6 separate regions of the Homo sapiens genome follow, and regions 1, 2, 4, 5 and 6 are each reported to be linked to region 3. Evidence: microRNA targets listed by miRTarBase, many of them from high-throughput screens and not tested one by one. Region 3 holds a microRNA gene; each other region holds the end of a gene's coding sequence.

The links. The annotated mature microRNA hsa-miR-215-5p reads AUGACCUAUGAAUUGACAGAC and lies in region 3 at 1,211-1,231, shown strand. An mRNA with a match to its seed (bases 2 to 7 or 8) in the 3' UTR can be bound and repressed. Matches are read on the target gene's strand: a 7mer-m8 pairs with bases 2 to 8, a 7mer-A1 pairs with bases 2 to 7 and ends in A, and an 8mer does both.
Region 1: the mRNA of REXO5 is a reported target of hsa-miR-215-5p. The part of its 3' UTR that is shown has no 7-base or 8-base seed match.
Region 2: the mRNA of UCK1 is a reported target of hsa-miR-215-5p. Seed matches in the 3' UTR shown: 7mer-m8 at 3,362-3,368.
Region 4: miRTarBase lists RDM1 as a target of hsa-miR-215-5p. The part of its 3' UTR that is shown has no 7-base or 8-base seed match.
Region 5: the mRNA of SLF2 is a reported target of hsa-miR-215-5p. The part of its 3' UTR that is shown has no 7-base or 8-base seed match.
Region 6: the mRNA of LARP1B is a reported target of hsa-miR-215-5p. The part of its 3' UTR that is shown has no 7-base or 8-base seed match.

What each region holds. Positions count from the first base shown.
Region 1 is chr16:20,849,193-20,853,281 of GRCh38, reverse strand. It overlaps REXO5 (RNA exonuclease 5), which reads right to left. Exons shown (of 20, transcript NM_030941.3): 20 at 3,617-3,883. The coding sequence ends at 3,802. Among named protein-coding and RNA genes, the nearest start is that of REXO5, 45 kb to the right of the region's middle.
Region 2 is chr9:131,521,430-131,525,517 of GRCh38, forward strand. UCK1 (uridine-cytidine kinase 1) reads right to left here. Exons shown (of 7, transcript NM_031432.5): 7 at 2,372-3,792. The coding sequence ends at 3,611. POMT1 (protein O-mannosyltransferase 1) reads left to right here. Exons shown (of 20, transcript NM_001077365.2): 18 at 1-43; 19 at 618-795; 20 at 1,503-2,370. The coding sequence ends at 1,677. Among named protein-coding and RNA genes, the nearest start is that of UCK1, 7.8 kb to the right of the region's middle.
Region 3 is chr1:220,115,058-220,119,146 of GRCh38, reverse strand. MIR215 (microRNA 215) reads left to right here and starts at 1,185; the gene lies at 1,185-1,294. The region is part of intron 12 of IARS2 (isoleucyl-tRNA synthetase 2, mitochondrial); the gene reads right to left. MIR194-1 (microRNA 194-1) reads left to right here and starts at 906; the gene lies at 906-990. It overlaps LOC124904515 (a long non-coding RNA gene), which reads left to right and starts at 34. Exons shown (of 2, transcript XR_007066883.1): 1 at 34-162; 2 at 1,264-1,405.
Region 4 is chr17:35,914,610-35,918,698 of GRCh38, reverse strand. It overlaps RDM1 (RAD52 motif containing 1), which reads left to right. Exons shown (of 7, transcript NM_145654.4): 7 at 256-619. The coding sequence ends at 357. It also overlaps the pseudogene LOC100133244 and the pseudogene LOC124903988. Among named protein-coding and RNA genes, the nearest start is that of RDM1, 14 kb to the left of the region's middle.
Region 5 is chr10:100,961,517-100,965,605 of GRCh38, reverse strand. SLF2 (SMC5/6 complex localization factor 2) reads right to left here. Exons shown (of 20, transcript NM_018121.4): 20 at 472-3,729. The coding sequence ends at 3,694. Among named protein-coding and RNA genes, the nearest start is that of SEMA4G, 5.9 kb to the left of the region's middle.
Region 6 is chr4:128,209,364-128,213,452 of GRCh38, forward strand. It overlaps LARP1B (La ribonucleoprotein 1B), which reads left to right. Exons shown (of 20, transcript NM_018078.4): 20 at 493-2,625. The coding sequence ends at 690. Among named protein-coding and RNA genes, the nearest start is that of PGRMC2, 76 kb to the right of the region's middle.

The DNA of each region.
Region 1 (4,089 bases), not on the chromosome of region 3:
GACTTGTGAGGATGCCCTGTCTTAAAAACATAAGGCTCCTACCTGAGTTTAACATTCTTCTGTTCAGTGTTCTGACCCTTGTCCCGTCTCTTGACTCAGGGGTGCTGAAAAAGTCCTGGTGGAATGTAGCAGCACCAGTGCAGTCAGCAGCGAAGCATCTTAACTCTACAGTGTTCTGTAATCCATGCTGATGGAGACTCTCCATGGGCCCTGTGTTTATCTGGGGTGATGCTGCTAAAACTGCTAGTACATCATAGAGCTACACAATAGTGTGGTACTACTACATGACAAGACAGAAGAAAACATGAATACTGGCCCTAGTATACACATGGACTTAAATGATAAAGGAGCATCCTCCTTTATTGGGTAAGTAAAGCTAGATAATTGGGTAAAATTATCTAAATATTTGGGAGAAAGTTATTACATGCCAAGATAAATTCCAAGAAAAATAAGGCTATGAAGTATAGACATTAAATCATTAGAAATATATAAACTTGTCATTGGATCCAGAGATCAGTCAGGGCTTTCTAAGCATAAAAGCAAATAGAGGAAATCACAAAAGACTAAACATAAAATGATATACCTTAAAAAGCAAACTAAAATTTTGTAATAGTTTGTAAATGGACACTATATATAGTGAATCCATAAGGCGCTCTTAAAAATTCAGTATGGAAAAGGATCTGGCTTCCCAATAGAAAAATGGCAAAGGATATGAACAACTCACTTAGGAAAAATAATTTACCAAAAAGCTTCTGGGAAAAAAAGCAGGATGCCAATCTAAAGGGTATTCAAATAAGCAGACATTAAATATACAATGAAAAATTTTAAATGGCAAAAATTTGAAAGAAATCTATGCTAGTAAACAGTAAAATCCTTTCTGGAGTTAAAAGCATGTGTTCGTACTCTTTAACCCAATAATTTCACTTAGGCACTTTTCCTAAAAGAAATATCTCCCAAGGATGTATGTGCAAGGATATCACTGGCAGCATCATTTGGGAACAACTTCCAAGGTCAACAAAAGGGACTGTTTTAGAAATTATGGCATACATCAATGCTAGAATATTACACAGCTATTAAAACTCTGCTTTTGAATAATAGAATTTCTATCATCATGGAAAAAGTTGATCGATTATAAAATATTGGCAGTCATTGACTGTTGATGGTGGGATCAGTTGTGATTTAAATTTTTCTGTATTTTTCAAATTTTCATTAATAGGTTTCCTTTTAATAGGGAAGAGGTTATTTACAAAAAGGGGGGCAAAAAGAAATGAACAACCCCCCCTATGGTCAAGGAGACCAGAAAATGGGAGTAATGTGTTCAAAGCCTAAACCATGAGTTCTGTAAAAGCCCTTGGAGTTGCTTTTCCCCCATAAGAAGCTGCTTCTCCAGCAGCTGCCTTGGCAGCTCTGCGCTGGCTGCCTAGAAGGGTGTGGGAGGAAAAATGCACAAACGCACTTATGAATGGAATGTGTGTTTTGCAAGAGGCCAAGTTGGCAGCTTTGGCTTCCAAAAGGTGGAGCATCAGGCTAAAGAACAGAGTGTGCAGACTGAAGTCTCAGAGGCCTTGTAGTGCAGGCCCATCTCTGCAGAGTTCTGGAGTTGGATCCCTGGGGAAACCTCCACCCCTACCCTTTTTCCTAAGAAAAAGATGGCCTTGGCTATTCTTGAGAGCAAGTGGAGTGCTCTTGGTACAGGGAGATGATCCCTAGTAAAATAGTATGTCATTTATTCAGCACTCAATCTTGACTTTTCCTAGTTTAATCCTCATAACCTTATGAAGTACTAATTTCCCCTATTTTAAAGGTGAGGAAACAGGCCCAGAGAGGGAAATTAATTCACACATAGTGCATTACTGTGTTATTTTCCACAAATGTCTCAATAATCAAAATAGTTATTTCCTTATTTTATACAGCTGTGGAAATAGCCTCAAATGAGGTTAAGTGACTTGCCCCAAAATACTCAGGTGTGTGTGGGAGGTGAAGCTCCAACCCAGGCCTCTTCATATCCGAGGCAGACACTTAATTTATCTCTCAGGACTTGAGCCTCAAGAGGTAAACAGCAGCTAAGCTCTCACAGCTTTGGAGCTCAGCTGGGCAGGAAGGAACCCAACAACACTGTCAGTTTCAAGTTGTTCTCAGGGCCTTGCAGCGGAAGTTGGCAATTCACCTAGGGAACTTTCCTCCTGATGAAGGGACTTGAATCAAGTTGCGGTGTCTGATCCCAAGTCAAGCTCTTCAGTTCTGGTTCCACATAGGGCCAGATCTTACAGAAGCTACATTTAAACTTTCATATAGGACCAGATCTTATGAAGCTACATTTATAAGATTAAACACTGCTCCAACTGCCCAACCCTAAGAGTTAATTTTAAGTAGAATTATCTTTCTCTTCTTTTCTTCTCCTGACAGCAGGTGGTAAGAATTATTTTCCAATTATAAAAGCAATATATGTTGAATGTTAAAAAAAATCGAGTCTACAACAGAAAAGCATTTGTTAAAACCTGATTTGTCAATGGCACTAGCCATAGATAAATACTATTAACGTTTTGGCATATAGCCTTGCAGGTTTTGTTAGAAGCCTATGTATAGCTTTGTATATTTTCTCCTACAAAAGTGTACTCAAACTACATGCTATTCTGTATCCCTCCAGACTTCATACAACAAATAATATACAGTACTGTGAATGTATAATCTCACTAATCTGTAATCCTCTCGGATACATACCATTATTATCCCAAGCACAGAAATGTTAAGCAATTTATTCAAGTTCACACAATAATTTAAAAAGCTGGGATTCAAAGTCAAGCATTCTGGATCCAGAGGTCTACTGCCTCTTCTTGAAGATCTCTTTCACCGAAGATTTTATTTACTCTCTCTCACACACACATTAGAACTGGCTACCTAGAACTCCATTGTAATAACCCTCTGATAGCTCCTTCATTACATGTTTTTGTGTAGCTATCCTAGTATCCTAGGATAATGCTGTAGAATTGCAGGGTCTCAGTGTACAGAGCAATTTACGAGGTTTTTGGGTATGATACATACTGTATGCCAGATTCATCTTTTCTGGAGGGCAGTTAATATTTCTAGTAGTTTTGGAATTGGGTGCCTATGCCCCATGTCCTTTCCAACACAGATTGTTATCAGTTTGAGAGTTGATTAAAACGGCTTTTACTGAATTTCAAGTTTCCAGTTCCTAGAGGGAGAGATGGTGTGATGGAGGCACCTACTGGTGAAGGGTGGCACTGCAGTCATGTTCTGAAGGGAAGGAGGATTCCTAAACGTGGAATGGAAGGGGTTTCCAGGGCTGGTTAAAAAAACTAAAAGAATCTTCCACTCCACTGCCTGGTGGACTTGCCAGATTTCTCAGTTCAGCTATCATTGTCCTTCAATTTTTTAAGAGTTGTCAATAAGAAAACAGTTTAAAGAAATTTGCTTCACAGACATTACAACTTTGACAAATTGCATAATCGGCTGGTTTTCTGAGTAATCACTCCTCTTGGTTTCCTTAGCAGTATATACCACGTAATAGGGGTGCTACATGGAATGAGCACCTTGTACCGCACCTATGCACATAAACTCAATGACACAAAGAAACAATCTGTGGACATCCCCATACTATGCTTGAACTTTAGGCATTTATTGAAAACTTATACATGCCATATAAACAAACTAAACTCTTTTAGCTGCTATACCAAGTTTCCATAAAGCTGTCTGCTGGTTGGGGAGGCTACAGCCTGACCACATTCTTTGCCATTGCCTACAAGGGGTAAGAAATGGCACATGGAAACATGGCAGGCCGACTCACGAACACAGGCCTGGGCCAGCGCTTTCTTCTTCCTCTTTTATTCCCATCAGTCCTAGACCAGAGAGTGAACCATGAGTGCTGCAATAAATAAGAAACAAAGGTATGTTTTTATCCATAAGGTTGAATGAATGGTTATAAATGCCTAGTTAGAGGAGATATTTTTCCAAGTATGTGTGTGTGCCATGGGGCAAGGGCAGGAAGGTTTATGGAAAGCTGCCTGCTGAAGATGGTTTAATGGAAAAAGCACTGATGAGTCTCAGAGGTCTAGATTCAAATCCTACCTT
Region 2 (4,088 bases), not on the chromosome of region 3:
TACCTGCTCCGACGGCGAAGAAATGTCCATGACCTCCCTCAGGGTTAGTACCTCTCCCACATGGCTTTCTTTCTTTTTAATATAGACATGGGGTCTTGCTGTGTTGTCCAGGGTGTTCTTGAACTCCTGGGCTTAAGCGATCCTCCTGCCTCGGCCTCCCATAGTGCTAGGATTACAGGTGTGCGCTGAGCATTCACCGCCTCAAGTGACAAACCGACTTCATAGGAACCTACCCCTTAACGCGGCCTCTTTGTTTCTGTATTGTGGAATCTTAAATTATGTTTGTCTCCCAAGAGACAAAATGTTAAGTTCCCATGTTGCGTTAGAGGTGTCTCCAGTCGAGTGCAGCGTATTGGGCAGGAATTGCCCTCTTGGTCCCATGTTGCCCGTATGCGCTGGAAATGGCTGGGTAACACAGGCAGCCAGGCCGGGCGCGGTGGCTTACACCTGTAATCCCAGCACTTTGGGAGGCCAAAGTGAGGGAGTCACCTGAGGCCAGGAGTTCAAAACCAGCCTGGGCAACATAGTAAGAACCCTCTCTCTAAAAAAGCAAAAGAGAGAGAAGACCCGGCCTGTGGGAGCAGCAGAGTCGGTGTAGCTCGAGCCCTTTCCTATAGATGCCTGGCTGCGCTGGGTGCTGGCTGGGGCGCTGTGTGCCGGTGGCTGGGCAGTGAACTACCTCCCGTTCTTCCTGATGGAGAAGACACTCTTCCTCTACCACTACCTGCCCGCACTCACCTTCCAAATCCTTCTGCTCCCTGTGGTCCTGCAGCACATCAGCGACCACCTGTGCAGGTACGGGGGCTGCGGAGACAGTGGCTGGACCGGGCAGCAGCCCTCTGCTGGGAAGCCCATGCGCAGCAAACACATGGGGTGCAGCGAACCTCACCCATTTCACGTTACACTGACATCCTCCGGGTCCCTCCGGGGAATGGGTGAGGTTCAGAAGAGATGCCCAGATGAGGCACTGCAGGAACCCAGAGGGAGAAGTCGCGGCTGACAGAGATGAAAGCGGAGTGGGTGGGGAGACGGGGAGGGGATGAAGAGATGTGGGTGGCCTGGAGGATTCGGGAGCAGGGAGCAAGGCCCAGGAGCCTGGGGTGTCAGAAACGGCAGCTGGTTATGGTCGGGTTGTGTGGTGTGGTGGAGAGAACCCAAGAAAGCTTCTAAACCAGAGTGTGTTTGGAGGTTGGAGCAGAGGGCGAGGGCCTCCCGGTTTCAGGAAGCCACACAAGGGAGGACCGTGGGTTTGGGACCAGTCCTCTGGCATCTGTGTGGAGGTGGCCCAGCCACTGTGGAGGCCTGAGGAGTCATCAGGGGGCCCCTCTCAGTGCATCCAGGTGGGAGATGGTCATGGGTGGCAGGAGACAAGACACAGAAACCTGAAGGCAGAACCCCAGGCCTCGGGGGGTGACCGTGTGGACAGCAGATGCCAAGAGGGTGCCGGGCAGGGAAGCCGCAGTGGTCAGCCACCCTCCCCCACGCTGCTCTGACCTCTGCAGGTCCCAGCTCCAGAGGAGCATCTTCAGCGCCCTGGTGGTGGCCTGGTACTCCTCCGCGTGCCACGTGTCCAACACGCTGCGCCCACTCACCTACGGGGACAAGTCACTCTCGCCACATGAACTCAAGGCCCTTCGCTGGAAAGACAGCTGGGACATCTTGATCCGAAAACACTAGAACAAGAGTGTGGCAAAGAACACCCGTGCTGGGGTCGGGATGAGGTTGAAGGGTCTTGGTCAATGTACGTAATGAGCAGGGTGGGCCCCACGCTGGGAGGACACGGGCTGGGCTGAGCAGGGCCTCTAGTGGAACACATGGGGGTCTCATTGAAAAGCTCTCTGATGAGCACCTCCTTTTGTGCAAAGTTAATTTTTTCTCGACAATAAAGATATTCCGTGTCTTTACCCCTGAACTAAGACACAGGGAGTATTTCAGAGGCCAGCGTAGGAGTCATTGACAACAAAAAGCCGAGAACCCAGGGCCAGCAGTGGAGCCTCAGCAGACCAGGGCCTGGTCCTTGCTAACTGCTGCAGGGTGGAGTTTGATCTGGCAGACCCGATCCTCCTTCATGAACACCCAGCAACCTGAGCAAGTCCCGGCCCTGCCCTCAGCGAGCCCGGCAGGCGTCCTGGGACAGCTCAGTGTTGGAGGGCCACCTGAACCACGAGCCAGGGCTGGGGCTTGCATGTCATTGTCTATGACAGCGTCAAGACTGGCCCTTGGCACCGTGCTGTGTGGAAACCCTCCCCTCTGAGACTCCACTGAGACGTGGCTGAGTGAAATCTTCCTCGTCAGTGGTCAAGGTGTGTCATCCATACAGCTCCATGCCTTTGTCTTTTTTAAATGTAATTAAAAAAGGAACCAACTGGCGTTTGTAGTTGGTGTTTGTTATTTATTGATTCTCCCTCCAAAGGGGCCTAAGCTCGACAAAACCGTTACAGTTGTCAGAACCCAGCCACAGGGCTCAGCCCCCTTCCCCCACGTCACGTCTGCATCACTACTGTGGGTGAGCCTGGACGGACGGGGGCTGGGGCTGCCCATGGCAGCGGCAAGGGATGCTTTCCAGAGACAGCCACCACGCAGGAGGGAGGATCACCCCAGGCAACCCAGACACGGGTGTTCACATGTGAGGCTGTGAGCTCCACATAGCACAAAGGAGGCTTGCTGACTTTGGGCGGCCATGTCTGCTGGGACCTGGGTGATCCAGTGCGTGCCACAGCCAGAAGCACCATTCCCTGCATATGGCCACTAGCCACCCTGGGGTGGGACAGCCTGTCTAGACAGACAGCACCTTGGGGGCTCCCCTGAGGGTCAGTGAGGGCCTGACCCCAGGCAGGACTGCGTGGACGCTGTTCTCCAGCCGGGACAGACCTGGCCTCCGCTGCCTTCTGCCCTACTGCATGGGCTCCCAGCCTGGCCCCGCACAAGCCTGGGTGTGATGCTGGGTGCTTCCAGGGCATCCGCCTCGCTTCTCTGCCTTTAAGGCACAAGCAAGGGGGGAAAACATCCCTCAGTGGCTCCCCATATCCGTGTAGGCCACGCTGGACTGCAAACCACTGGGTCATGAAATTAGGTTTGTAGGCCACAACCAGCCTTGTGTTATGAAACAGAAAACAGAAAACATGAGGACATGTAACATGTAAAAAAGGAAAGTACTTGTTCACAAAACTTTTGAGTTATGTGTGTGAGTGTGTAAGAACCAGATCAGACTGGAAAAAACTCTCTCCCACTGTGGGTTCACTGTCAACAAAACATCAGGCCAGCCAGTGTCTAGGCTGTCTCCTCAATTTCCCCAATAATGTGCCTCACATTCCTCACAGAAGCCTCCCAGGCTTCCTGCACATTCTGTGGCATTTCTCAGTGACCTAGAGGGATCTTTAAACCGCAACGAGCCTAAGTGGCTGAAAACCTCAGGAACGCCTGTCAGTGTCCCAGCAAGTTGAGTCTGAGTGACACATCTGAGTTTCCACTCCTGAGTGAGGAAGGCCTCGCTGCTAACACTCCCCTGGGGTGCGCCGAGAGGAAGCAGTGGGTGTGGGTGGGCGTCCCCAGGCTCAGTCCCTGAACACACATGCCGGGCGGGAGACCTGCCCTGAGGCTCGGCAGCCCCTCAGTGGGGTCTGCTGCTGGACTCCAAATGTGACCGTTTGCCAGAGGTCAGCATCCCAGGGTGGTCCCCTGGCTCAGAAAAGGTCCGCTTGTAGCTCCGCCCATTGGACCCTCCTCGGTGCCATTTGCAGATGTCACCATTCAGAATGTCCTGGATGTGCTGCACGATCAGGTTGATGGCAACTGCGCCAAGAGACAGACAAGCAGCGGGTTAGCCGCATCCATCCTCCGTGGAGACCGCCCCTCCCCGCAGCACTCGGCCAGGAGTGAGCGCCCAACCTCTGCCCTGAGGCACAGCCTGCGGCGAGGGGCATCGAGTCAAATCTCAGCAGACAGAAACATGCATCAGGACACAGCAAAATAAGACTTCTTAGCTTGGTCTTCCAGGAATTTATGTTAGAGTCTGCTTAAAGTACTTTCTGCTAACAGATTTGAATATACATATATATATGTTTTAAGAAACAGGTTCTTACTTTACT
Region 3 (4,089 bases):
TTATTTAGCGTGTTATGGACATTAAGCAGCATTAAGATTACTAAAGCAACAAAGAAACGACTGCTGTCATCCCACTGTCTTCTGTGTTTTGCCTTTATAAGCAAAAATATTGAAGATTATTAAGACAACTTTTCTTCTGTAACTTACTGGAAGAAGAATGAGGTAAGAGGCTAAATGTTTCACATTTGTTTACTAAATTTAATTCTAGAACAATGTGAAATTTGGAAGGGGAAATTCTATTTTTAGTTTAATCCTAGATTTATGTTTTAAAGCTGACAGAAAACCATTTTGAAGAAATTTTTCTTTATTTAATGAACATAAATTTTTTGAACAAAAGGTTTATTATTGTTAACTGAGAAAAAATTTGAGGTAGCTAAAGTTAACACTCAAATTATATTGGAAATTCCTTGGCTATTTTTACTAAATTTCTCATAATTTCCAGAAGTTAGGGGCTAAGTTTCACTATGTTAACTATAGCATTAATAGCATGAAAGTGATTATAACTGTTTGAAATGATGAAAGAAATTTAACCAACTTCTTTTCCTTCCCAGGTAGCCAGTGTTTCTACATTTTATCTTTTTTATGCTAAAAATTATTTCTTCTGTTTTTATTGACTAGTAACAGATTTCAACCCAAATTCTAATGGCATTATCTCACAGATTCAAAAAATGACCAATGACAGTAAAGTCAGAAATGGAATTATTTCTTGATAAAATACAAATATGATCTAAAATGCAAATGACACTATTAATTCAAATCAAAATAAAACATCAGCGTTTCAAATCTACCAGTCCCTAAACTTATTTAGAACATGAATAAATCGAGACTTTCTTCTGTGAAACAAGTATACTTAGAGATATCGTACAGCTCCCATGATGAGCAAAAGGAATCTCCTTATATGTTTAATGGTGTTATCAAGTGTAACAGCAACTCCATGTGGACTGTGTACCAATTTCCAGTGGAGATGCTGTTACTTTTGATGGTTACCAACTTGCTACAATATAAAGGTATAATAAAGAAAGACAGAAAATTGTGGTCACTTGGACTCTCATTTGATTCCAGCAGAAAAAAAGATTTTCAGCCTGTTTTATAAAATTAACAAATGATTAAGAATTAATATCAATTTTCTTAAATTCAAGTTTTGTAACACCAAAAAGATCCAATAATGGAAGAGGATTAAAGTCATCATTCAGAAATGGTATACAGGAAAATGACCTATGAATTGACAGACAATATAGCTGAGTTTGTCTGTCATTTCTTTAGGCCAATATTCTGTATGACTGTGCTACTTCAATATCAGAAATCGACTAACACCACGCAACCAACGCAATGGCAGGTACACAGAAGATAATCTGTAACACTACCATGTAAATGTATTGAGTAAATAAAACATAAATATACCTAATGAAAACTTGTGTTTTTCTGACAAAGCTCATATTTATTTAACCTAACTTACTGACCAGTCAACCTATGTACCATTTAATTATCAGGATGTATCAATTAAACCAGTTTGCTATATTTACTAATACATACATATGATCCACCTCAGAGTCCAGAGGGCTATTCCACCAAGGAATCCCCACCCACCTCAATCACTTCAGTGAAATTCCCTAGACATCTTGCTCTCTAAATAGTGAAAAGAAGAGTAGCCGGGCACAGTGGCTCACGCCTGTAATCCCAGCACTTTGGGAGGCTGAGGCGGGCGGATCACTTGAGGTCGGGAGTTTGAGACCAGCCTGACCAACATGGAGAAACCCCGTCTCTACTAAAAAATATATATATATAAAATTAGCCGGGCGTGGTGGCACATGCCTCTAATCCCAACTACTCAGGAGGCTGAGGCAGGAGAATCACTTGAACCTGGGAGGCGGAGATTGCAGTGAGCTGAGATCGTGCCACTACACTCCAGCCTAGGAAACAAGAGTGAAACTCCATCTCAAAAAAAAAAAAAAAAAAAAAAAAGAAGAGGAGACAATGACATGGCTTATAAAACTTTCCAAAAAAAAAAAAAACTTTCCAGTGTGAAATTTTAAACAAATGTTTGTGGAAACTCGTCTCAGGTATAATCACTTTAATTCTTTTTCTTTTAAACTAAGTCTGAGGCTGGGCATGGTAGCTCATGCCTGTAATCTCAGCACTCTGGGAGGCAGAGGTGGATGGATCCTTTGTGGCCAGGAGTTCGAGACCAGCCTCGTCAACGTGGCAAGAGCCCATCTCTACTAAAAATACAAGAATTAGCCAAGTCAGTGGCGCGTGCCTGTAGTCCCAGCTACTCAGGAGGCTGAGGAGGGAGAATCACTTGAACCTGGGAGGTGGAGGTTGTAGTGAGCCAAGATCACATCACTGCACTCCAGCCTGGGTGACAGAGTGAGACTGTATCAAAAATAAAATAAAATAATCTGAACTGGACAGAATTTACATTAATTCTTAATGTAAGTATTAAGATATTAGTAGTTTACATCTGACCAAGCTCTGTAAGAACACCACAGCAACAATATTTAGATTATTCCTAAAGTCTTACCTCAGATCCAACTTATAATAATATTGAAATAGCTTTCCAATGACTTTCCAGTCTCTAGCCTCTACTTTCTTTTCCTAAAACATACTCTTACTCCTCAAGTCTACTTAAAAGTTTAAACTTCTTAATAGCATAATTTAGAAAAAATTCCATTCACCAAATTAAAAAAAATTGCTCAAAGAAAATGAAAATCTGGAATGTGTTCCTAAAAGGAAGAATTAACATTCCCCTCTCCACATCTGTGAAAAACAGCAACAACACTCAAAGCCTCCCTAATATTACTAGAAGATAAACTAGCTAGACTATTATCTCATTAAAAACAGGGGCCATGTCAGTCTTGTTCACTGTAGCAACTAGCAGTTCCTAGCACTGACACGTACTAAGTGCTTGACAATGTGTTCTGTTTTGTTTCGTTCTGAAGAGACAGTGTCTTGCTCTGTCATCCAGGCTGGAGTGCATTGGCATGATCATAGCTCACTATAACCTCAAACTCCTGGACTTGAGCGATCCTCTCGCCTTAGCCTCCCAAGTCGCTGGGACTACAGGCCCACACTACCACACCAGCTAATTTTTAAATTTTTCTGTAGAGATGGGGTCTCACTGTAATCTTGAACAGCTGGCTTCAAGCAATCCTGCCGCCTTGGCCTCCCAAAGTGCTGGGATTACAGGCATGAGCCACTGTGCCCACATAACAATGTTTCTTAAGTGAATACATGAATAGCTCATCATCTATGGAATACTGTGCTTTACACCAAGTAGTTTGCATTTATTATTTAGTATTCATAACAGTCTACCTGCAACCATTGCTTTTCCTATTTTATAGAGGAGCCAGAGGCTAAGTAAATTCCTCAGTCTCACACACAGTGAATGGCAAAGCCTGGGTTCAAATTCAGTTGCCATTCTCCAAAGCTCACAGATTTCCAAGCAACTTCTCTTTCGAAAAGCACAAAAGGGAGCTGTTCGGGATAAAAGAATTATTCTAAGACACAATTATGATAGTGGCTGTAAAACTTAACAAATTTACTATAAATCACTTATAATAAATGAATTTTTCTTTTTTAATTTTTTTGAGATAGAGTCTCACTCTGTCACCCAGGCTGGAGTCCAGTGGCACGATCTTGGCTCACTGCAACCTCTGCCTCCCAGGTTCAAGCAGTTCTCTGCCTGAGCCTTCGGAGTAGCTGAGATTACAGGCCCGCGCCACCATGCCTGGCTAATTTTTGTATTTTCGGTAGAGATGGAGTTTCACCATCTTGGCCAGGCTGGTCTTGAACTCCTGACCTCATGATACACCAGCCTCGGCCTCCCAAAGGGCTGGGATTACAGGCGTGAGCCACCGCACCTGGCCATGAATTTTATAGTATGTAAAGTATGCTTTAATAAAGCTTAAGAATGAGGCTGATCTATGTGTAGTGATTTGGAATAAATCATAACACATAAAGTGAAAAAAATCTAGGCACAGAGCAGAAGATAGAGATACTCTCTTTTGTATAAACATATGTATGTGCTGACAGAAGAATTCATTTTTTCTGGAAAGATTCAGAAACAGCTGTAAACAATGACTGCCTCAA
Region 4 (4,089 bases), not on the chromosome of region 3:
GTAATGGCTGTGTTAAGTCAAGGCAGGATGACAGTTCAAACTTCTCTCCCAGACTGAATTGCCCACCTCCCAAAACCCCTCCTACAGAAAATTTGGAGTCTTCACTTATTCCCTGGCAGCCCCTACCTAATAGAGTGGTGAATTATCAAACATGCAACAAAGGATATGGAAAGTTTAGCAAAAACGGCAACATTTTGGAATGAATGACCGTAATGTGCGTTCTGCCTGCCACCCTAACTAGCGCACATTTTGCAGGTCCCTTGCTCTCCCTGGAAGCAGTATGGCCAAGAGGAGGAAGGGTATCTCTCGGATTTCAGCTTGGAGGAGGAAGAGTTCAGGCTGCCAGAACTTGACTAGCATTTCTGAATATCCCAAGGCGAGGTCATGTAACTTCCTTGGGAAGCTCTGTCGTGCCCCTACCCCACGCCGCCCCACCACTATAGGCTGCTGGAGTCCTGGAACCACCTGGGTCGGCCGCCCAAATCTTTCCTGGCGAAGGGGAGGGAAGGGGTGTTCTGGTGGAGTGGGAAGGGAGGCTTGGGTAGGATTGTGGGATAAGATCGCCCTGGTGACGAGGAGCGGATCTCGAACGGAACTTAATAAAGGTTGCCTAGATAAAGATATGGTAAATAACGGACGAGGCGGGGCCGCGGTTGCTAAGGGCGCGGGCATCTGGTGGCTGCCATAATGGCTTCTGCTCAGTGCGGGACGCCAACTTCTGTCATGTACCGGCTGCGTCTCTGGTCCCTATGGCCCCTCCTCACGTGACAACTACTGTGACTACTAGTCCAGGAGGCTCAGCCTCTGGAGTGGGTCCAGGGCCCACTCCAGCTGACCTCCGACCCCCTGAGGCCAACTGAGCCCTGGGCTTGGCGCTCCTCCGATCTCCCCCCGGAACCTCCCTATGCGTTTATCCACCCCCACCCCCATACAGACCCGGGAGCTTTGATAACCTGAGGTCCTCTACTGCCACCCAGATGTCAGCCTCGCCTCAGGAACCGACTGAGACTTTGGTTCCATTTCTGGACACAGATTCAGCTGGAGAGCTGCCCCTGGGGCCAGAGAAGTTCGCTGTTGCACACCAGGATCTGAATGATAAGCTGACTCACAAGAAAGGCTCCCAGAGTTGGTTCCAATGCTAGACTGGGATCAGAACCAGACGGTAGCTCGGCCTCTTTGCCTCAAAAGTAAGGTTCAAACTGTAAGTCTAGATCAGGCTGCAGATCATTAGGCATATGAAATACTTGTTCCACCTCTAGATAGTCAGAATTCAAAAGCAATGAAGATTAGTGTTTCACCCAAAAACCTGAAGAAGAAAGATCTACCTAAGCATCGGAGGCTTGCTAAGGTTGTTGTTGGAACTCCACACCGATTTGTATCAAAACCTCAGTGTCAGAAACAAACTTTACAAGCATTTAGTATTTAGATTCAGGTATGGATATACTGTATCTGGGCAGCCTTCCTCCAGAAGTCCAGGTGAAAGATGAGCCTCCAGGGCCCCATGAGCAAGTTGGACTTTTGCCAATTCTATCTAGAGCCCGAAACTCAAAATCCACAGACCCTCCAAGAGATCCAGTCATCTTCACTCCAGCAAGAAGCCCCAGCACAGCTTCCACAGGTCCCTGAATACGTAGAAACTTCTTCAACCCCGTAGGAGGCCCCAGCTCTTCCTTCTCAGTCCCTTAAGGGGGTCCATTCTTCAACAGAGCAGGAGGCCCCAACACAGCTGCTACCTGCCCTGAAGAGATTGTAGCTCAGTTATGAATACGTTATCAGGTAAATGTTGCATTAAAAAGTTGGAGTGAGGCCAGGTGCAGTGGCTTACACCTGTAGTCCTAGCACTTTGGGAGGCCAAAGAGGGTGGATAACCTGAGATCAGGAGTTCGAGACTATCCTGACCAACATGGTGAAACCCTGTCTCTACTAAAAATACAAAAGTTTGCTGGGTGTAGTGGTGAGCACCTGTAATCCCAGCTACTCAGGAGGCTGAGGAAGGAGAATCGCTTGAACCTGGGAGGTGGAGGTTGCAATGAGCTGAGATTGCACCATTGCACTCCAGCCTGGGCGACAGAGTGAGACTCCATCTCAAACAAACAAAAAAAGTTGGAGTGAAGCTCATCACTCACACTTGCCCAATGTAACAGTCAAACTTGTGGATTTGGAGCTTACAATAAGTCCAAAGCCAGATAAGAAACTTACATCAAGCCGGGAACAGGCCACAACTCAGCCTCCAGAGCACCCTGAGAAGATGGACCCTTCCTCAACCCAATTAGAGGACCCAGCTTAGACACCAGAGTGCCCTGAGGAGATGAAATCTACAACCCAGCACAGGACCCCAGCTGAGCCTCCAGTTCCTCCTATGGAGGCCAGACCTTCTCCAAGTGAGCAGGAACAGCCAGCTCAGCCTTCTGAGTTTCCTGGGGAGGTTGAACCTTCCCAGACCCAGCAGGAGGCCACCGCTCAGCCTCCAAAGTTCTCTATGGAGAGTGCATATCAAACTGCACTGAATTATGAGGTGACAGTTCAAACTCAGGGTGAGGATCAAGCTCATTATACAAATGACAGTTAAACCTGTGGATGTAGAGATTACCATAACTTCAGAGCCTATCAAAGAGACTAAATATTCTGCAGCCCAGCAGGAGGTCCCAACCCAGCCTCCAGAGGGAGTGGAAACTTCTGCAAACCAACAGGATTTAACTGAGGCTCCAAGTCCTGTGGAGGATGAATCTCCCCCGAGTGAGCAAGAACAGACAGCTCAGACTTCTGAGTCTTCAGGGGAGGTTGAATCGTCTCCAGCCCAGCACGAGACCCCAGCTCAGCCTCCAGAACATCATGAAGTAAAAGTTTCACCTCCAGGTCACCATAAAGCTCAGCATTCAGATTTGCCCATTGTCACTGTTAAGCCTCCAGTTATGCAGCTCACCATAGCAACAGAGCCTACTGCAGAGGTGGGAACTTCTCCAATCCACCAGGAGGCTACAGCTTAGCTCTCAGGGGCAGTTAATGATGTGGAACCTTCCATGACCCAGCACGGGGGCCCAACTCTGCCTCCATAGTCATCAGAAGATGACTTTACCAGTTCAACAGGAGACTTCAGTTCAATCTCCAGCTATTAAAGATGAGAACCTCTCTCCAGCCCAGCAGAAGGCTGCTGCTGAGTATCCACAGATGCCTGAGGAGGTTGAGTCTTCTCCAACACAGCAATAGACCCCAGCTCAGCCTTCAGAGATCCCTATTGAAGTTATAGCTAATCTCCAGTGCATCATGAGGTAACAGTTTCTCTAAGTCATGATCAAGTTCAGCCTCCAACATTGCACAATGACACTGTGAAACCTGTGGATCACATGGTAACCATGACTCCAGAGTTCACCTAACAGGTTGAAATTTTAACCAAACACAGGGCCCCAGCTCAGTCCTCAATGTCCCCTTAGCAGTTTCAGCATTTGAAAGACCAGCAAGAAATGATTATTCAGCAGCTAAATACCCCTGAAAATGATGAACTTCCTCCAGTCCCTCAAGAGCCCACAACTCAGTCACCAGCTCAGACTTTGTAAGGTCATTGAATGATGAGATGGTATTTTCACCTCTAGATCTATCTTTAATATTCAGAAATAATTCAACTTTCCCTAATACCACATTTAAAAATATGGATATGGACCTCACCATACCTACAGAAGTCACTATGGAGGTTGAACCTTCCCCAGTCCAGCAGGACAATCCTCCTATTCCCACTGAGTAGGCTGACTTTTCTCCAACCCAGCATGATACCCCTTCCCCACCTCTGGATTCTCCAGAAAAGATTGAATCTCCATCACAGCAAGAGGCCACAGCTCAGACCCCAGATTCCCCTAAAGGGGTGGATTTTCTCCAGTCCAGCAAGAGTCCCCAGCTGAGGCACCAGAGCTCCCTAAGGAGGTTGAACCACTGCAACCCAGCAGGAAGCCTCAGGTCATCCTCCAAAGTCCACTGCAGAGGTCAGTCCACCATAGCTGGAGATACCAGCTCAGCCATCAGCCACCTGAGAAGGTCAAACCATCTTCAGTCCTACAGCAGGCCTCAACTCAGCTTTTAGAGCCACCTGAAGAGGTA
Region 5 (4,089 bases), not on the chromosome of region 3:
TCTTGGTCCTGGGCTCAAGAACAAGGGAGTCAGGTTAAGGGTATTTGTTTCTAATTCTCTTTGCCCAAGAACAGAAAGTATTTTAACCTGGATACCAGGAGGTAAGATTCATGAGTTCTCTATGTTGTTCACCATCAAATCCTTACTGAATCCTAAAAAGAGTGCCTAGTATGTAGTTGAGACTCAATTGTTAGAATGAATGGTGGAATGAACATAGTGAATGAGGTAAGAATGAGATTACTGAATTCCTGATTGCAAAGTATACAGCAATTAACTGGGTTATATAAAAGTGAACTGTGTACAATGGTGGCTTTATGTTTTCCAGAAACAGGAGACATCAAGCTAAAAAACTGGACAATCCAAAGCAAGAAGAAATGTTTAAAAGCCAGGGGACTGGGGTGGGCTGAGGGAACAGGGCATTCCAGATAACTTAGCCTCCCCAACTCCCAAACAAATATTACCAAACACATGTTCAAACTGAGAAAAAGCAGTTTTAATAGCACACACACACACACATTCATAGGACTTTAACAAGATGTAGTATAAAATCTTTAAAAAAAAAAAAAAGGAAAGAAAAAAATCTGTATTTACTTCCTAAGAGCTGGTGGATTAACTGGCTGACAGGACTGCCCAGGAAAAACAAATGCACAGATAATGAGGTGCGCCGACACTGTTCATGAGTAAGGAATAACCATGGATCATGCTAACTGCTCTACGTGCCCCGCCGCCTGGACCCTACTGTTGCCTCCTTAGCGACAAACCACCACAGTCATCCCCTAATTCTCCAACTCAGTAGCTTGTTTAATGGGCTACCTCTTAAAATTTTCATTTTTAATTTAAAAATTACTCTTGGCTTAAAGACGCCACACATTATTACTGGCCAGTCCCCACCAATTATATTTGTTTTGATAAAAATAAAAATGCAAATACTCCAACTAAGCCTGGATGATAACACGCCATTTTGTATCTTTTACATTTGAGGAGATTTTTGTGAAGCTGAAAGCAAGCTACTATTTGCGCTTGAAAGCAGAAACAAAATGCAAACCTTCCAAAAGGTGACAAAGGCACCACTGCCATCAGGAGATAGAAAATGTACAAATGCTGTTACTTTACGGCTACATCAATGCATTTTGTGCATGGAGAGCCTCTTAATGTGATAAAACTAGTAGAATTATATTTTCAGTAACAAGAAAAGCAGTTAGAAAAGGCAAACAGTTACACACAAAAGCATAAACACTTACAAGTACCTTAATGTGCAGCTTGCAAGAAGGGTAATAAGTTTGCCATACATATCCATAAAATTAGACAAGGTGATTTTTGGCACAGTAATATTGCCAAACACACCACCACTCAGTGCAAGCTTCGTTTGCCAAGTCCCCAAAGTGGCCTGACATTCTCTGTGCAATGAACATTTCTCCCTCTCTACCATCCCATTCACCGGGCAATAGCAGCAGGAGGGAGACAAAGCATGGGGACTCAAGGGAGAAGTAAAATACTTGATTTGGAAGAAAAACCATGGGCTACTTGTGCTAAAAGAGAGTCACAAAGTTTTCATGAGAACCCAAATGCAAATACTGACTGGACTATGACCTGGAGTCTGAAGACCTCTACCAGAGTCATAAATACAAGGGCCTAAACTGAGGTCTGGCCATTTATTTTAGAGGGACCATGAAGTATTTTTTTTCTAAAGGAGAAATATAATTAAAAATAGAGATTTTTTTCTTATTGGAACTGTTAAATAAAAATGTATCAAAGTGGTTTTAAATTTGATGGACAGTTATCTGTTGAAACTGCAATACAAAAGGGTCATTAAAAAAAAACCTGAATAACCCACTTGTCCCCCCCATCAATGTACACAATTAGAAAATATTTACACACTGTAAATTACAAGCAATATAAGCAGTATTTTATACTTTGAGATTTTGTACACTTTACACAATGCAAAATGAGAAAAATATGAACACGTATAAAATTACACACAAATAATGTATCTACAAAGGATTAAATTACAGAACGAAAGCCCCCATCGTTGGGCAGATAGATGCCAGAGTTTCAAGCTTCTGTCAAATAGAACTCTTTGTATCTATCTCTTTAACCATAAGTGGCATTTTGTAACAATACCCTTGAGAGGTAGTATCAAGATAATAATATTCTTACCAGTAAACAACACAGAATAAAACTTTTGTTGGTCTGACTCTTGGAGCCTCAATCAGTTTAGGTTCTTGGAAACTGGATTTACTTAGTCTTCCCTATAAAATCTCTGACTGCCAATGCTTGATTGACATGAGCTCAAAAGTTACTGATGCTATTTTAAATGATAAATTTAGGACAAAATGCTTTTTACTCCTAAGCCTCAATTTAGAGGTAGAAAGTTATTTTATTTTCTTGCCTCTCAAACCGCAAACATCAAGTCCAGTTTCTGTTCCCCTCCATCATCTTTCCCCCCCACAACTGGAGACACTAGAGCACTCAGGAGAACAGGTCACTCAAGCCAATACTGAAAGAACAACAAAAAAAGTTGGCATTCTTTCAGGAAACAAACCCTCCTAAAAGGGACATCTCGTCAACAAAATAATTTTCTAGTTGGCTAGTAAGAGTTTGTTACTACCCCTGGGCTAAAAACAACGTGTGCACTTCCACTAACCCTCTACCATTTAAACCAAAGGATGGCTCTCCAGTGTTTAAGAATTTACAGCAGCTGTGGTTTTGAAGTGCAACAACTTCAAGATACAAGCGCACACACACACACACACACACACACACATACACAGACACAGTGTCCCAAAGAATTCAGGTGTCTGCCAAAATTATATACTCATGGAAACAAGGTTGTTGGAAACTTGTCCAGATCTTTAGGCTTTTACAATATAGACTTCTGTAATATGGTTACCAAGAGCCAGAATTCTAAGATATAGCCAAGATTCTAAGATTTAACCAGTATTTAAAATACATGCATTTAAAAGAAATCCAGAACAAACAGCATATGAATGTTCTGGCATCAAAACAGGGCCACTACTTTACAGCTTAACCTCTTCCTCTTAAGGGGATCTGACAACATGCCAAACTTTTGTTTCTCAACTGTTTGTTTAGATGTATTTTAAAAACAGATTTATAATCTTGAGTAATGAAGGAAAATGCATGGATTGAAACCTCCCTGTGGTTTATAAAAGTTACAGAAGAGATTTATGCTTTTTATTACTAAACTCAGTTTTAAGCATTCCCTTTGTGTCCGAAAATAACCAAGAGGGAAAATTAAACCCAACTGGAACTTGGTCTTGCTTTCCATGTCCAACTTCTCAAGTTAGTCCAAGCTCTTTTCTTATATATTTCCTGTGATTATCCAAGTGACAAAAATACTATCTAAAAAAGATAACTGGCTTATAATTTAACAAGAGGAGTTAACTGGGGCAGGTTAGACATATGACTATTATTCTGCTTCTACCCCTCCCCTCTTTTAATAAGACTCTGCACTTTTGAAAGGTCAGTTGCCTTAACAATTAAGCAGATCATATTTCATATCTGCTTCAGAAATGGCAATTTCTTCATTACCAGCTTCATACTAGATATTCAAGTGGCACATTTGCTGTACATTTTCTTGGCATTCATTGGATTCTGTAATAATCCTTTCTACTCCTCTATGAAAGGCTCTTATTGAATTTCTCTTGGTTCATATTTTTGCTGCTGCAACTCCTATTAAGAATCTGGTACCCAGAAGTCATGAAGCTGCCCCTAAAAAAGGGAAGGAGAAAAAAGAGGGTAAAGCAAAATTTAATCATATTATGAATTAATCCTTATAAAACTACTAATCATCAGACAATGGGCTTTGATAAGACAAGTAATAAAATCTTTATATTGACTTCTCTGAAAATTTATGGTAATCAGATTCAAATTTCACATTCAGTAGTCAAACAACAAAAAACAGTAAAAAATAAGTGCAGGATGTTTTTCTCACCACTGCACACATGGAGGGGCTTAGTTAAGCAGATTAAATAATGTTAAGCTGATTAGTATAGTTTTGCTATTAAATTATTTTCTGTTTTAATACCACATCAGTACATGACCAGCATTAAAAGAAAATCTATTAAGGTT
Region 6 (4,089 bases), not on the chromosome of region 3:
TGAGCCGATGTGGCACCACTGCACATCAGCTTGGGCTACAGAGTGAGACTCTGTCTCAAAACAAAAACAAAAAACAAGCAAACAAAAAAAACACTCGGGCTACAGAGTGAGACTCCGTCTCAAAAACAAAAAACAAAAACCACAAACATATGTTGAGTAAAAGAATGAGCAAATACTAGTAGGCTGATTTAGTTAGGAAGGAAATTTAAGTTTAGTACCTTAAGTTGCTGTTAAGTTTTTGTTATACTAATACAATCTGTGAGGCGGAAGAATGGCGTGAACCCGGGAGGCGGAGCTTGCAGTGACCCGAGATCGCGCCACTGCACTCCAGCCTGGGTGACAGAATGAGACTCCATCAAAAAAAAAAAAAAAAAAAAAAATTATACTGAAGTGTCCATTTAACTTACTTTTTTGGGGAAAAGTCTAGCCTTAGATTCTGAAGGGAGGAAAAACAGTAAAATTGTCAACGGTGTTGCCTTTCATCATTTGCAGCCCCCTATTAGTGATGAATTTGGAAGAAAAAGACATTCCTCTACTTCTGGTGAGGAGAGTAATCGTCATAGACTTCCACCTAATTCCTCTACAAAGCCACCAAATGCTGCTAAACCTACATCTACCAGTGAGCTTCAGGTACCAATAAACTCTCCCAGAAGGAATATTTCACCGGAGTCCAGTGACAATTCACATTAAACAGTGCTGCCTGTGTCCTGTGGTCTCAAGAAATGGTGAAATGCCTGAGAAATAGACTCTTATGAAAGTTCTTTGTCCTTGAAGTCAACATTTACATCAGTATTTATTTGGGGAAAATCTTCTGGTGTTTAATTGTGATAATAAGAAAGAAGAAAAAGAAAGAAAAGTGGTAGCATTTTTTCTAACAAGATAAATTCTAAAAATGTTTTCCCTGATTTCACAAACAAGGATAGTCTTGGTGACCTTTTATAGAGATCTTCTAGTAATGTATTTTGATCTCAGATTTCTTTTTCAAAGCCATGGTTTTACAAAAACAGCATTCCTTAAATATATTTAAAAAACAATACAAGGAATGCCTAACATTTCAGCTCATACTTCTTAAAGAAGATATAGTATGTTGTATTCTCTTCTTAGAGCTTTCTTAAAGAATCCACAATCCAATTACCCCACTGTCAATTCATATTTGAACTTACCAAAACAAAGGAGGATTACGTATATGTTTTTTAAATTCAAAAAAGAATATGAAATTATACCTTTAGTATCCCTTTGAGACATATAGTTTAAAGAAAACTTTTTTTAAAACAAAAGTAGGAATATATAGTAAGATTGTAGTTACAATGAGTATATGCACTTTTGATGCTAGGTTTTGCTTTTCTCCCCCCAGTCATATCTCATGATTTCCACAGTTGTTGTATTGGTGTGGAGTTTTCTGAATTGGCTATAAGCTGATTACATATTAGAGGTTTATTTTTATGATTCTATATAAACGTGCACGAGTAATTTAAAACCTGCATTGGGATTGATTGGAATATTGTCCTAAATTAATTAAATCTTGCACTGTTTTGAATGCATCTGCTATTTATACATCTGCAAGTGGGTATGTCATAAGGAGTCAGATTATCTTTAATTTAAAATGAATACTTAGTTTTACCTTTTTGTTTATTTTTTGTTTAATTTTGTTTTTATAAATGTTTTCAAGAGTTATAGCAAATTGATTTCTAATTTTTATTGCTATTACAACTGATGTAAATGGTAGTTTCAGTTTTTGTGAGATTTAAAAAAATAAAGCACTTATTCTGAATTTTTTGAATTGATTTTTAATTATTTTTATTTAGAATATAGTTGAAAAGCTGTAATATTCAGTTTTGCTAGTAAAAGACCATTTTTTTGTGTGAATGAAGTTTCAATTATAAACTTACATTCACTTTATTGAGCACTACATAATTTACAGATATTTTGTTGTATTGGCAAAAGCAAGTGGTTTCCATATGCTAAATTAATTGTATTTTCTTTTTGAGCAGATTGGATATCTTGTTCTTATAAATTATAATATTGAAATACATATAATCTTTGGATGGATGGGCTGTTAATTTGTAAATAGGTTTTCATTAAGTTATTTCTCATGATAAGTAATAATCAGCAGTTTTATAATATTTACTATTTGGAGGGTCATTTTGATGCTTTAAATTGCAGAAATAGTCAAATTTGAATATTCAGAAAATAAATTTATTTAGATATATTGTAAAGAGGGTGCAAAACAAGCAATGGGTTAGAATAATAGATCTTCAAGTCTTTTCTTAAATGGGGTATGTAGTTCCAGCTTTTCAGTGAGAAATTTCCAAACCGTGCTTATTAGCTTTAAATGGTCTCTTGAAATGATCATAAATTTTTCTCAGTGTCCTTTTTGTGTTGAACACATATATCTGAAACCTGTATTTAACCAGATATTTCTACTCAACTGAATATACAAGTGTAAATTTGATTGGAAAATTGTATATTATAAATGAAAATACAATAATCAGGAGTTTTGTGGTTTGTATTAATTAGTAGTTTTATCATATTTTTATTATAAAAGTAATACATGTACATTGGGAAATTTAGAAAAGCACAAAGAAGAAAATAAAGTACTTGTTATAAAAAGAAGAAAAACCAAAATTGGTGTCAGGCTATATATAGTGTTATAACCTGCATTTGTCACTTAATGGAGTTGAACATTTTCTGATGTCATTAATATTTCTCATTACTTTTTTTTTTTAAATTGTAGAGATGGGGTTTCACCATGTTGACCAGGCTGATCTTGAACTCCTGGTCTCAAGTGATCCACCTTCCTCGGCCTCCTAAAGTGCTTGAATTACAGGCATGATGAGCCACCGTGCCTGGCCAGTGATGTCATTAATATTTCTATTTCATGGCTTTTACTAGTTACATAGTATTCCAGTGTGTGAATATGCCGAGTTTACGTAGCTAACTGCTGACTGTTGAACTTTGGCTGTGGCTAGGTTTTAGCTGTTACAAACAACAATTAATAGGCTGGGCATGGTGGCTCATGCCTGTAATCCCAGCACTTTGGGAGGCTGAGGCGGGTGGATCACTTGAGATCAGAAATGCGAGACCAGCCTGGCCAACATGATGTGAAACCCCATCTCTACTAAAAATACAAAAAACTAGCTGGGCGTGGTGGTGCATGTCTGTAATCTCAGCTACTGGGGAGGCTGAGACAGGAGAATCGCTTGAACCCAAGAGGCAGAGAGGTTGCAATGAGCCGAGTCCGCACCACTGCACTCCAGCCTGGGCGACAGAGTGAGACTCTGTCTCAAAAAAACAAAAACAAAAACAAAAAACAAACAAACAACAATGAATAGTATCCTTACAGATAAATCTTTGTGTATAAAAGAGTTACTGTCAAGAACTCCTAGAAGTTGGAACTCTAAGTAAAAACGTGTCTCCATTTAAGACCTCTAGGAAGGTTGCACAGTTTACACTTTTATCAACATCTGCTTCCCTACATCCTTATCAACACCAATTATGATAAATCTTTCTCTTTAGACTGATAAGCAAAAAATCATTTAAATCTCTCTCTTTTTTTTTTTTTTTTTTTTTTTGAGATGGAGCTTTGCTCTTGTTGCCCGGGCTGGAGTGCAATGACGCGATCTCGTCTCACTGCAACTTCCACCTTCCAGATCCAAGCAATTCTCCCGCCTCAGCCTTCCGAGTAGCTGGGACTATAGGCATGCACCACTATGCCCGGCTAATTTTGTATTTTTAGTTGAGATGGGGTTTCACCATGTTGGCTAGGCTGGTCTCGAACTACTGACCTCAGGTGATCCACCTTGGCCTCCCAAAGTGCTGGGATTACAGGTGTGAGCCACTGCGCCTGGCCACTAAATCTCATTATTAATGTCACCATTTTAATCATTTTAAATGATTTAATCATTTTAATCATTTTAAATAGTGACCATTTTAATCAGGTCACTAATGAGCAATAATTTTTATTGCTTATTAACCATATTGTTTGTAGATTGCTTGAAAATACCCCTTACGTTTTCCTTTTGGAGTGATTATCTCTTTCTGATAAATTTATGGAGTGTTTTCACTTATCAAGAATATTAACCCTTTGCT